Linked DNA regions of Homo sapiens. The protein of the gene in region 3 interacts with the protein of the main gene of each other region in a pairwise test. Each region holds a gene or a part of one and is shown on either strand. Other genes may lie near its edges. The genes, in order: SOCS7, CUEDC1 and OSTF1.

What was found.
Region 1: the proteins of OSTF1 (region 3) and SOCS7 interact in a two-hybrid assay, tested with the Homo sapiens proteins (one large-scale study listed by BioGRID).
Region 2: the proteins of OSTF1 (region 3) and CUEDC1 interact in a two-hybrid assay, tested with the Homo sapiens proteins (one large-scale study listed by BioGRID).

Annotation. Positions count from the first base shown.
Region 1 is NC_000017.11:38,393,302-38,396,954, reverse strand, and holds part of SOCS7 (suppressor of cytokine signaling 7), read right to left. Parts: intron 1,647-3,653; coding exon 1,511-1,646; intron 1,108-1,510; coding exon 987-1,107; 3' UTR 957-986; intron 1-956. UniProt on the Homo sapiens protein: Substrate-recognition component of a cullin-5-RING E3 ubiquitin-protein ligase complex (ECS complex, also named CRL5 complex), which mediates the ubiquitination and subsequent proteasomal degradation of target proteins, such as DAB1 and IRS1.
Region 2 is NC_000017.11:57,945,401-57,949,053, forward strand, and holds part of CUEDC1 (CUE domain-containing protein 1), read right to left. Parts: intron 1,493-3,653; exon of another isoform or gene 772-1,492; intron 1-771.
Region 3 is NC_000009.12:75,143,979-75,147,631, reverse strand, and holds the end of OSTF1 (osteoclast-stimulating factor 1), read right to left. Parts: intron 950-3,653; coding exon 891-949; 3' UTR 367-890; downstream 1-366.

The DNA.
Region 1 (3,653 bases), on a different chromosome or scaffold from region 3:
ACTGCAAAGCCATCATGCAGAGAAATCCACCTAGACACAAGACATTAGATATTTAGTCATTTCCAAAGGCATACAATTTGCATATAATTGAAGACATGATGAGACTGTACATCTACTCCAGGATCCACACCAGAAGAAAGCAGTCACTGCACACTGGCAGTCAATCTTGCTTGTCACCACCACCACCAAAGTCATGGCTCCCTGGCAATTGTGTTCCCTACTCAGGAACTTGGCCCCACAATGTTCACTTTAGTGCAATTTAAAAGACTAATTGGAATTCATCTGCACAAACCAGTATTGCAAGATGTTTTATGGGAAAATAAATGGGTAGAACTGTGTAATGATGGGAGAAGAGCCTCGTAGATAAATGAATTCCTTAGTTTCAACAATTTACTTTGTAATGGCCCAAATGGAACGCTAAATAGAAGAGTGGGCTGTTTTTCCTCATCCCCATATTCCAAGCTGTGGGACATGGTGGAGTCTCACTGAAGTGCATGCCTGTTGCAATTAAAGGCATGTTTGCATTCTCTTTGATGAAGTTTCCTTTCCCTTTAGCTTCCTGCTTTATATGCCATTTGTGCAGTATCAGGGAGATCAGCCCAAGTCTGTATGAGAGGAGGCTGCACTCTTCTTCTTATTTTTTTCAATTACCCTCTCCTTGCCAGAGGCCGCACTCTTAGCTACACTTGGGTGTCCCCCTCCTTGCTCACATTCAGTGATTAGCTTGCACGTTTCCTGGCAATCTACTTTCTTGTCTTTCTCGTCTGTCTGCTTTTCTCCCAAATGGGGTGTGTGCCCCTTGAGGACTCCACGGTCAGATCTTGTCATTCTATGGGCAAATGCCTGGATCGGGGCTATCCATGTTGGGAGTTGTGGGGAGGGGGCCCAAGGCTCAATGCATGATGATGACTGCCCAGGAAGAAATGTGGCTGGGCAGTGAGGCAGAGAGCTCATACCCTTGGTGGTGACCAGCAGGGAGCCCCTCGCTACGTGGAGGGTTCCACCTCTTGCTTCTGTTTGGAAATGAGCTGCGCTTCCTTTAGAGACAGGTATACCTCTTCCTGAGGATCATAGTAGTAGAACTTTCGGATATAAGAGATCAGAGGTCTGTGAAAAACAAATGACGGATATACACAAAAGGTTTTTATACAAAATATAAAAGAAGTAACTCCTTTGTTCAACTCTTCTTCACTCCCTACATGGTTGAGACCTAACACAATCCCCATTTTCTCAGTTATTATAGTTCTGTCTTCCTTACTCTTACCACTTCTACTCTATTCTTCCTAGAGACTGCAGAAGGAAGGCTGACACACACACCTTCCTCCCTCTGGCTGCAATATGACAGTTCTAGAGTTAGGTGCTAAGACACAGGAAATGTGTAAGAATGACATCTGCAAATATTTTATGCCAGACTCTGCCTGTGAAGGTAGCTTGCAGGCCTCACTGACATTGTTACCTCCCCACAACCCCCTTACTCATTCCTGTCCCAAACCTGACAACCCCATTGTACTTAGGCAGTGGGAGATCTGGGATGTGATCTATCCTGACGAGCTGTCGTATCCGGAATCTGCAAAGGTGCTGGAGGGATTTGACATTGCTGAATCGGGACACTGGATAGAGCAGCTGGACAGGAGTTGGTGGCAGTCCTTCAAGAAAGAAAACAAAGGAAAGTATTCAGAGGAAACAATGGAGCTAACTACCATTTCTTGTATGAAGAGAACCTAGGGAGGGGAAATGGGACTTCTTTATGGTTCATATATGTATTCTGTGCAAAAGCCCCTCCACAAAGTGCTGTTGATTTCCATTTCCAGAAGCACCACCACCACATTCACAATTAAGGAAATCCATTCTCTGCCAAAGGCCTCCCTAGCATCACTTTTTTGTGTGTCTTTTGTTTTGTTTTTTGAGACAGGGTCTCGTTCTGTCACCCAGGCTGGAGTGCAGTGGCCCAGTCTCAGCTCACTGCAGCCTTGACCTCCCAGACTCAAGCAATCCTCCCGCCTCAGCCTCCTGAGTAGCTGGGACCACAGATGCATGCCATCGTACCCAGATAATTTTTGTATTTTTAGTAGAGACGGGGTTTCCCCATGTTGCCCAGGCTAGTCTCGAACTCCTGGGCTCAAGCAATCCACTCGCCTCAGCCTCCCAAAGTGCTAGGATTACAGGCGTGAGCCACTGTGCCTGGCTCCTAGCATCACTCATAACAGCTGAGAGTCCTGCTCCTCGGAGTAGCCCAATTATGCCAAACTAGAGACACTGCTTGGACCCAAGTGGCCAATCCCAGGCCTGAGGCTCTCGGGAAGGCCAAGAATCAAAAGTATCCCTGCTGGGAATGGGAGATACTTGTTGGGCACATCTAGCAGTATCCTGAAGGTGAGGACCCAGAAAAGCCGTTCAGAGGAGTCCCCACCAAATTCCAATTGGTTCAGCAGAGGCTGGTTCAGCAGAGAGGCTGGTTCAGCAGGGAGGCTGGTAAGTAGAAGGTAACAGCTAGGATCAAAGTTAACAAGCCTATTATTCCTGCCATTATTTCAAGCCAGGATAATCAGGTTTAGCTACCTTTTATACCCAACCCCCATAACCCCCAGTTCCTGCTTCTGAAATTTTAGGCCAGGAGACCAAAAAAAGATGATGCTTTTAAAAGAACAACTACAATCGCTTGGGCAAGCTAGGATTAGTACCGCTCAGTGCAAACCCGCCTGCTGATTGATGCCAAATAGACTCAATGGGAGTACCACACCCTTATGTATTAGCAGGCTCTGTGCTGGGGAATCCCACCCCAAAAAGGGCCCCACGCCACAGCATGGAGACATCCAGAATGGCAGGAACACTGGGATTCAAGGGAACTAAGAATATTTTGCTTTCAATAAACAAAGGGGCTATGGAAGGTAAACAAGATTCTTTGAGAAAATCTGAGTTGCAAAACCTGTCAAAGAATTCTCAGCCATTGTCATATCAAAAGACATTCTATAGACACAACTGATTGGAAAATAAAATATCTACTATTATTGGGGTTTAAGTTCAAATAGTTTTTTTGTTTGTTTGTTTGTTTTTTGAGGCGGAGTCTTGCTCTGTCGCCCAGGCTGGGGTGCAGTGGCGCGATCTCGGCTCACTACAAGCTCTGCCTCCCGGGTTCATGCCATTCTCCTGCCTCAGCCTCCCGAGTAGCTGGGATTACAGGCACCCACCACCACGCCGGGCTAATTTTTTGTATTTTCAGTAGGGACGGGGTTTCACTGTGTTAACCAGGATGGTCTTGATCTCCTGACCTTGTGATCCGCCCACCTCAGCCTCCCAAAGTGTTTGTTTGTTTTTTTAAGACAGAGTCTTGCTCTTGTCACCCAGGCTGGAGTGCAGTGGCGCGATTTTGACTCACTGCAAGCTCCAACTCCTAGGTTCAAGCGATTCTCCTGCCTTAGCCTCTCGAGTAGCTGGGATTACAGGCGCCCGCCACCACACCCAGCTAATATTTGTATTTTTAGTAGAGACGGGGTTTCACCATGTTGGCTAGTCTAGTTTCGAACTCCTGACCTCAGGTGATCCACCTGCCTCAGCCTCCCAAAGTGCTGGGATTATAGGCATGAGCCACCATGCCCGGCCCAGATAGTTTTAAAATTTTATTTGAAGGCATGAAAACAAAACAAATGAAAGCA
Region 2 (3,653 bases), on a different chromosome or scaffold from region 3:
TCTAACTATATCTAATAAATAGGTTAAGCCCATTTCTTCTAGCTGTATTATGAACATTCATGCAAAGACATCCGCATAAACATTTTTGTAAAGGTTTTCCCATATTTCCAGAATGTGGTGAAATCTCCTTATGGCCATGCTGAAAAGAATTGGAATAAAAAGAATTTAACATTGTAGCCCTGGCTTTACCACTAAGTAGCTGTGTGATTTCACAAAATGAAAATAATAACAATAACAGCAGCAGCTAACATTTAATGAGGACTTACAATATGCAAAACATTGTGCTAGGGGCTTAATAAGTATTTGGTAGTAATTAACAATCATTATGTAATATTTTGGCCGGGCGTGGTGGCTCATACCTATAATCCCAGCACTTTGGGAGGCTGAGGTGGGCGGATCAGTTGAGGTCAGGAGTTCAAGACCAGCCTGGCCAACATGGTGAAACACTGTCTCTACTAAAAATACAAAAATTAGCTGGGCATGGGGTAATGGAGGGCGCCTGTAATCCCAGCTACTCAGGAGGCTGAGACAGGAGAATTACTTGAACCCGGGCGGGTGGAGGCTGTGGGTGACAGAGCAAGACTCCACCTCAAAAATAAAAAATAAAAAAAAAACACCAAAAAACCATTTGGTAATATTATTACTCCCACTGTATGGATCAGGAAACTAAGACTCAGAGAGATTGAGTAACTTGCCCCAAGAACACAGCAGCAACTAGCAGAGGCTGGGATGAAGCACAGGCATTCTGATTCAGTATTCTTAATTACATACCATTGGTCTTTTCAAAGCACTTAACGACCCACAACCTCAGATTCCTCCAGGAGCCAACCAAGCAAGCAGTCTTCAGAATCCTTTCCAGCTGTAAAATTCAGTGATTCTCTCTTTTCAAAATAAAATGAATTTATAACTTTGAGAAATAAAATGTAATGATGCTCTAGTACTGCTGAGGGAAGGAAACATCTGTGTATGCCTCACCCAGAACCAGTCAGGGGAGGAAAACTGCTGATTTTCTAGGGTAATGATGTCCTGTGAACCAACCAGACTGGCCTCAAGCCGTCTCAGGAAAAATGACAGCTTGAAGTTCTCAAAGGATCCACCAACATGCAAAGGTCTGCAAGTTCGCAACTATCAGTTCTCAAACTTTAATTTGACTTTTTTTTTTTTAAAGGAAACTCATATGCAAGAAAATGCTGCACCGTAGAGGCTGATCTTAAGAATGCCAGTACAAGATGTATGTTGACTCTGTGGCATGCTCACACTTGCTTTCCTTTCAGGTGTACACCTGCTCAGGGAAAATCCACCCGGCCCAGGCAATCTGTTTTAAGACTTCCCTAGCTCGAGGCTCAGTGGTCCTGTAATTGGGTGGGGGTTTTGTCCTTTGCACATCTGATATCTTCATACGCTCCCTCCTGCTCATCATCACCAGCCCGGTCTCTGGACACACAAACACGCAAGTGCTGCCTTCCCCAACTCCATCTCGGACGCATCTTCTTCCTCTCTCTGCTCAACACAGGAGTTCCCTGTTCACACACCTTGCCATTGGCTGACACAGCCAATGGTGAAACTCCCCCAGCTGACCCTCCCTGGAGCTCACTAGCTCTCTCCCAGCTGTGGGTACAGCCTGAAACCGAAACTAATCTCAGACCAGAGCAAAGTGAAATCATTTCAGGAGCCTGATCACCCTACATGACCACAGAGAGGCTTCCCCTTAACAGAGCTCCAAATCCAGCTTGCTGGTCACCAGGAGAAAAAAAAAAAAAAAAAGCTTTGCAGTGCCCTCCTAACATCAAATACTTTCTTAATGAATAGGGAATCATGGGATTAGAGGAGGAAGCAAAAGTTCTTGCCGTCGTGTTTGCTGCTGCTACTTCTCTCTTATTTGCACAAGTCTATTTCAGTTCACCCCGTGAGCTAAAGTTCACCACCCGGTATTATTTTTAAACTCATTGTCCAGCATCCGTTCATATTTGGTTCACTCTTAATCAGATTATCTTCCAAGAGCAAGCTTTGTTCTCTTCTGAGATCCCTGTAACCATCTTGCTGTAATGTGGCTGAGACTGTTATACTACATGTTTTTCGTAAATTTGAAAAACGAAGCGTTTTACTTTTGTGCTCGAGCCAGGCACGGTGGCTCACACCTGTAATCCCAGTACTTTGGGAGGCTAAGGCGAGTGGATCTCTTGAGCTCAGGAGTTCGAGACCAGCCAGGCCAACATGGTGAAACTCCATCTTTACTAAAAACACAAAAAAATTAGCTGTTTGTGATGGCGTATGTCTGTAATCCCAGCTTCTCGGGAGGCTGAGACACAAGAATCATTTGAAACTGGGAGGCAGAGGTTGCAGTGAGCTGAGATCACACCACACTGCACTCCAGCCTGGGTGAAAGAGCAAGACCCTGTCTCATAAATAAATAAATAATAAAAAATAAAAACACTTTTGTGCTTGGAACAATACAAAAGAAAAAAAGCAAAAGCCATTATGACTGAACATAATGTCAGGCCTTGATGATCCTTCAAAGAAGTATAAATGTTGAGAAGGATCCTAAACTGTGTTTTCTCTTCTTACCCTTGCCCCCAGCATACTTGTGGGCAGCTTTCTTTGTGGCTAGGCAGTATTATGAAAAAAAGCCTACTGTCAGCTTAAGCAAAACAGAATAAGAAGGGTTAAGTGCACTGGCCTAACAAGGGTATGGTCAAAGAGAAATTAAGTCTTGGATTATCTGTTATTTACTCATTCATCCAACAAAGTTTACTGAGGGCCTCATATATATGCCTAAAACTCTTCTAGGTGCATCTAGGAGATAACCCACTAGCTCCAACTGAGAGTGCCATTCTCAGAAACACTGTGTGTATGGGGGCTGATGCTTTCTGTATTCCAATACCAAGACAAATGCTCCACTACTTCCAGGTTTCCTGAGCTCTCCTCACACGGCTTGGACTCCATCCCCGAGAGCTGTAGGTCCCTCCCAGTGAGCACCCCCGGGTGATGCTGACCAGGAACATTGCGGGCCAGGGTCACCTGGCCCAGAGCTGTTGGGCAGACTCTGTTTGTGCCTTGGCTCACTCATTCATGGATGAGCTGCTCAGTGTTATCGGGCATTCTTCAATCACTCCAACAGTCAAAGGAGGGGTTAGGCCAAATTTAAGTAATCTTCTAGCTCAAAAATTCCAGCTCCTTTTATCCTCCGATCACCGAGCTGACATGGACCTCTAGGGGCCTCTACTTCATCTTCCTGTCTCCAGATGAAACCTCTTAAACCACAAAGACAAATGAAACTTGTTCCCATTTCTGAAGACCTTCAGGGGAGGCCATTCCCCTCTGTGCCTATGAGTCACTTTTCTTACATCTCACATCCTATCTGGAATGTCTTCCTCATACCTTACTTGAATCCTCCCTCTGTAGTTTAAATTCATTTGCCTCTGGTTCTAAGTGCAGAGAGACAAGAGTGAATCACTGTGTTCTGAGCAATGACTCTTAAGGGACTTTTATGTCTTCTTCACCATGTTCACTGCAGGCATTACAAGAGGTGGCAGTGTTTCTCAGCTGTTAAAAACCACAAAGGCATCAGGAAAGCTGACCACACTGCCCAGTTCCTGCCTCACCCTGGCAAGGGTGCTACAGAATCCAGAAAACCTGACCCTTCTCTGAAACCC
Region 3 (3,653 bases):
GATCCATACTGTGAGAAAACAAATGTTATTAAAAAAACTGAATGCAAAAAATTTCATGGTTCCTGACTACTCCATATGGAAAAGTATGGCATCTATCATAAGGAAATAAATTTTTTTAACCTTTCAAATCTTAGCGAAACTGTAATGAGTTGTTGGGTTTCTCCACTCTAAATACAACCTTGGAGATAAAAACTGGAAGTCTCACAATTATTAAATTTACCTATTTTATTAGACATGCACCTTCTCAATGATTATTGTCCTGACTTTGATCAAAGCTAACACAAGAAGTTGAACTAAAATGTGGCTCTCATTATTCTTCTGTGCTAATAAATATAAAATATAATTTAAAAAATAAAATCAGTTCTTACCTAAATATAAAAAGCTTTACTTACTTAACGACAATGAGTGATACCACAGAAACGGACAAAAGAAATAAAGTCTCTCAAAATGTTTATTTTTGTCAGAATAGCTGACAATTTTCTGTTAAGTATTTTGGTTTATTATTATAATAAGCATTTCCCCCCCTTGAAAAATCCATTCAAAATATCTCAACCATTGAGGTAAAGCATTTTAACTAAAAAAAAAAAAAAAAAAAAAATCCTAATTTGTTTTTAAAGAAAAAAAAAAATCTTAAAATTCCTTTTGCTTGATAAATAGAAATAATATCTTCTTGTTCTACTTTGGTGAACATAAATGTGCCAAGAATCCAGTCACTTACTGGCAAACCAAAGGTGGGAACAATTCATTTACACGTTCTACTCAAACACAGTGCAACACTGCCGTGTTCATATATAATTTTCTTTATAGTTACCAACACTTTTCTGGCAAAGACAAAGTTTTGGAATGGCAAAAGCAACAGAAGTTTTAGATCTCAAAGCTCCAGAAAGGAATTAATCTGAGTCTTCATCATCGAGATAGTCCTCGGCATTGCTTAATGTTCGAACTGCATCTGAAAGAAAGAGGAGGGAAAAAAGCAAAATAGGGAAATTATAAACTGCTCAGATTTTATTTTTTCATTTTCAAAGCTCTTAAATTAGAATAGAATCTTCCATCTGACCCAGGGATTGTACTTTCCCTGAGGATCTTTCTCTGCTTTTGCTTTTCAGCCTAACCATTAAGTTTCTGTTGCCACAGAGGCTGATGATGCGTTCCACAGTCATGCAGAAGTTTTGGTCCTAGGTGCCATGCATCCATTTCCAACAGAAAGGCCTAGCCACAGGCACCATGACCAACATGATACACCACCAGCAGCACTCCACTCTGACAACTGAGCTTCCAACCTCCTCTCCCAGTGACAGCCTGAGGTCTTGCCTAAAGGCAAAGTCACTAGGTAGGACGTTAACTACCGAAGGGGAAAAAGGAAAAGAAAGAATGAAAACAAAGAAGCTTCCATTTCAATGTAGAAAACACCGACAATAAAGCAAAAGGCTGAAATGGGGGGGAAAAGTTTTAAAATAGAGCTGGACCCCATCAAATGTTCAAGCAAACTTGAACAGGACTCAAAAGGAAGACATCTGATCTTTCACAGTCACCCCTTCAACTGTCTAGTCAAATTCCTATAGCAACAGATTAGCCCAAGTATAATTTTAGTGGGAAAAACAGAATGCAAACACAAGCACATTGTTGAAGTTCAATAAATATATGTCACAGCACCCAGATCTTCATGATCTCTAAGTATCACATCTCTGAAGCTTATTATACATATGACCGGTTCCAAGTATGGGGCAGGAAGTGTAAGGGATGGACCTAGAACCCTAGTCATGTCATAAAGCAAGCATCCTAACAAAGACAGCATCACGTGAAAGGGTCTGAGATTCAACTTAAAGAGGCCTCCACTAGCCAAAGATGGGCTATTGATAAAGCTACTAATTGGAATGGATTAAAGCACATTAAATATTTCAAGGCACACCAAAAAGAACTCATCTGTCACCCTTTGGAGGATGACAGAGACCAGCTTATTATTTTAAAACCTCTTAAATAAAGGTCAAAAATCAAGCATTTATCCTGCCCTTGCTACATTAACTGTTCCTCTGCGTAACAAAACAATTGATGAGGGAAAACTTTTCCTAATAGAATGTTCCAGCTAATAACTCAAAAAGAAGTGATTTAATTAGAATATCATCATTTTGTGCCGTTTAGTGAAGTAACAGATCTAGGCAACGATCATCAATGGATGTCACATCACAGGAAGAGTGACAACCAGGTATCATGTGCCCCTGATAAAAGAACACAATATTCTATATGATTTATTATTCCTTCTACTACCAAGAAAGATACATGATTAGGTAGGTAGGTAGATAGGTAGGTAGGTGAAGAGATGGATAGATTGAACCTAAATTGGATCAAACCTCTGGCTAGCTAGCTAGATTTGATACATAGCTAGGTAGGTAGGTAAGTAGGTAGGTAGGTAAGTAGATGGATAGAACCTAAATTAGATCAAACCGATAGATAGATTAGATAGATAGATAGGTAGATAGATAGATAGATAGATAGGCAGGCAGATACATGATTGATTCATGATTGATTGATTGATAGAATGAACCTAAATTGGATCAAACCTCTAAATCTAACACTAATTGACAAAAACATAAAGGACAGAGGAACATGACAAATAACACCATGGGAATGCAGTTAGCAATGTCCACAATGGGAAATTCAAGTGAGTTGACCCAGTTTCTTTAATAAATAAATTGCAAGGTTAAAAAGGGGGAAGAAGAGAGGGAAAGGAACTATTGCTTAAAAAATAAATAAAGAGACATATCTACCAATCACAAACTGACCTTATGTGAATCCTGACTTAAATAAACCATAAGTAAATAAATAAGTAAAAACAAAGATGTATGAGAAAATGGAAGTTTGGACAAGGACAAGATATTTGATGATATTAAGGAATATTAAGGAATTATTTTTTAGGTATGCTAATGCTCTTTTAAAAAAAAAAGTTTTCATGTTTACATGTTTTGGAAAATGATTATTGAGAAAAAGAAAAGAAGAAGGGATGATCAGTACAAGGGAGGTGGAAGCCGATTTATCTTGCAAGAGAGAGAAGGAAAGATAAAGCAGAACAGAGGCCAAGTCTCTTTTCTGGATCTCATTCTGTCACCCAGGCTGCAGTGCAGTGGTACAATCATGGCTCACTGCAGCCTTGACTTTCTGGACTCAAGTGATCCTCCCACCTCAGCCTCCCAAGTAGCTAAGACTACAGGCATGCAGCACCACACTCAGCTAGTTTTTAATTTTTTTTGTAAAGACGTCATCTCACTATGTTGTCCAGGCTAGTCTTGAACTCCCAGATGCAAGCAATCCTCCCTGCCTCCCAAAGTGCTGGGATTACAGGTGTGAGCCGCCACACCTGGCCATGTTTCACTGACTTCACACCAGCCTTCAAGCTACTGGAAGTCTCCAGGTTGACTCTATTCTTCTCCACTCTCCTCAAGAGGAGTTCACAAGAAGTGGGAGGAATATATTTTGTTCTCCCCCAACACACACCCAGGACCTTCAGGACTTCATGTCAACTTGGTAAAATGTAGCTTTCTAAGCTAAAGCCTGAGAGACAAATAGGAAAACTCTGTCCCCTTCTACTCCACTATCCTAAGTTTTGCCCATATTCTGTGTCCTTGGATGGTTACTTCTGCTCTTTATTTTATTCTTAC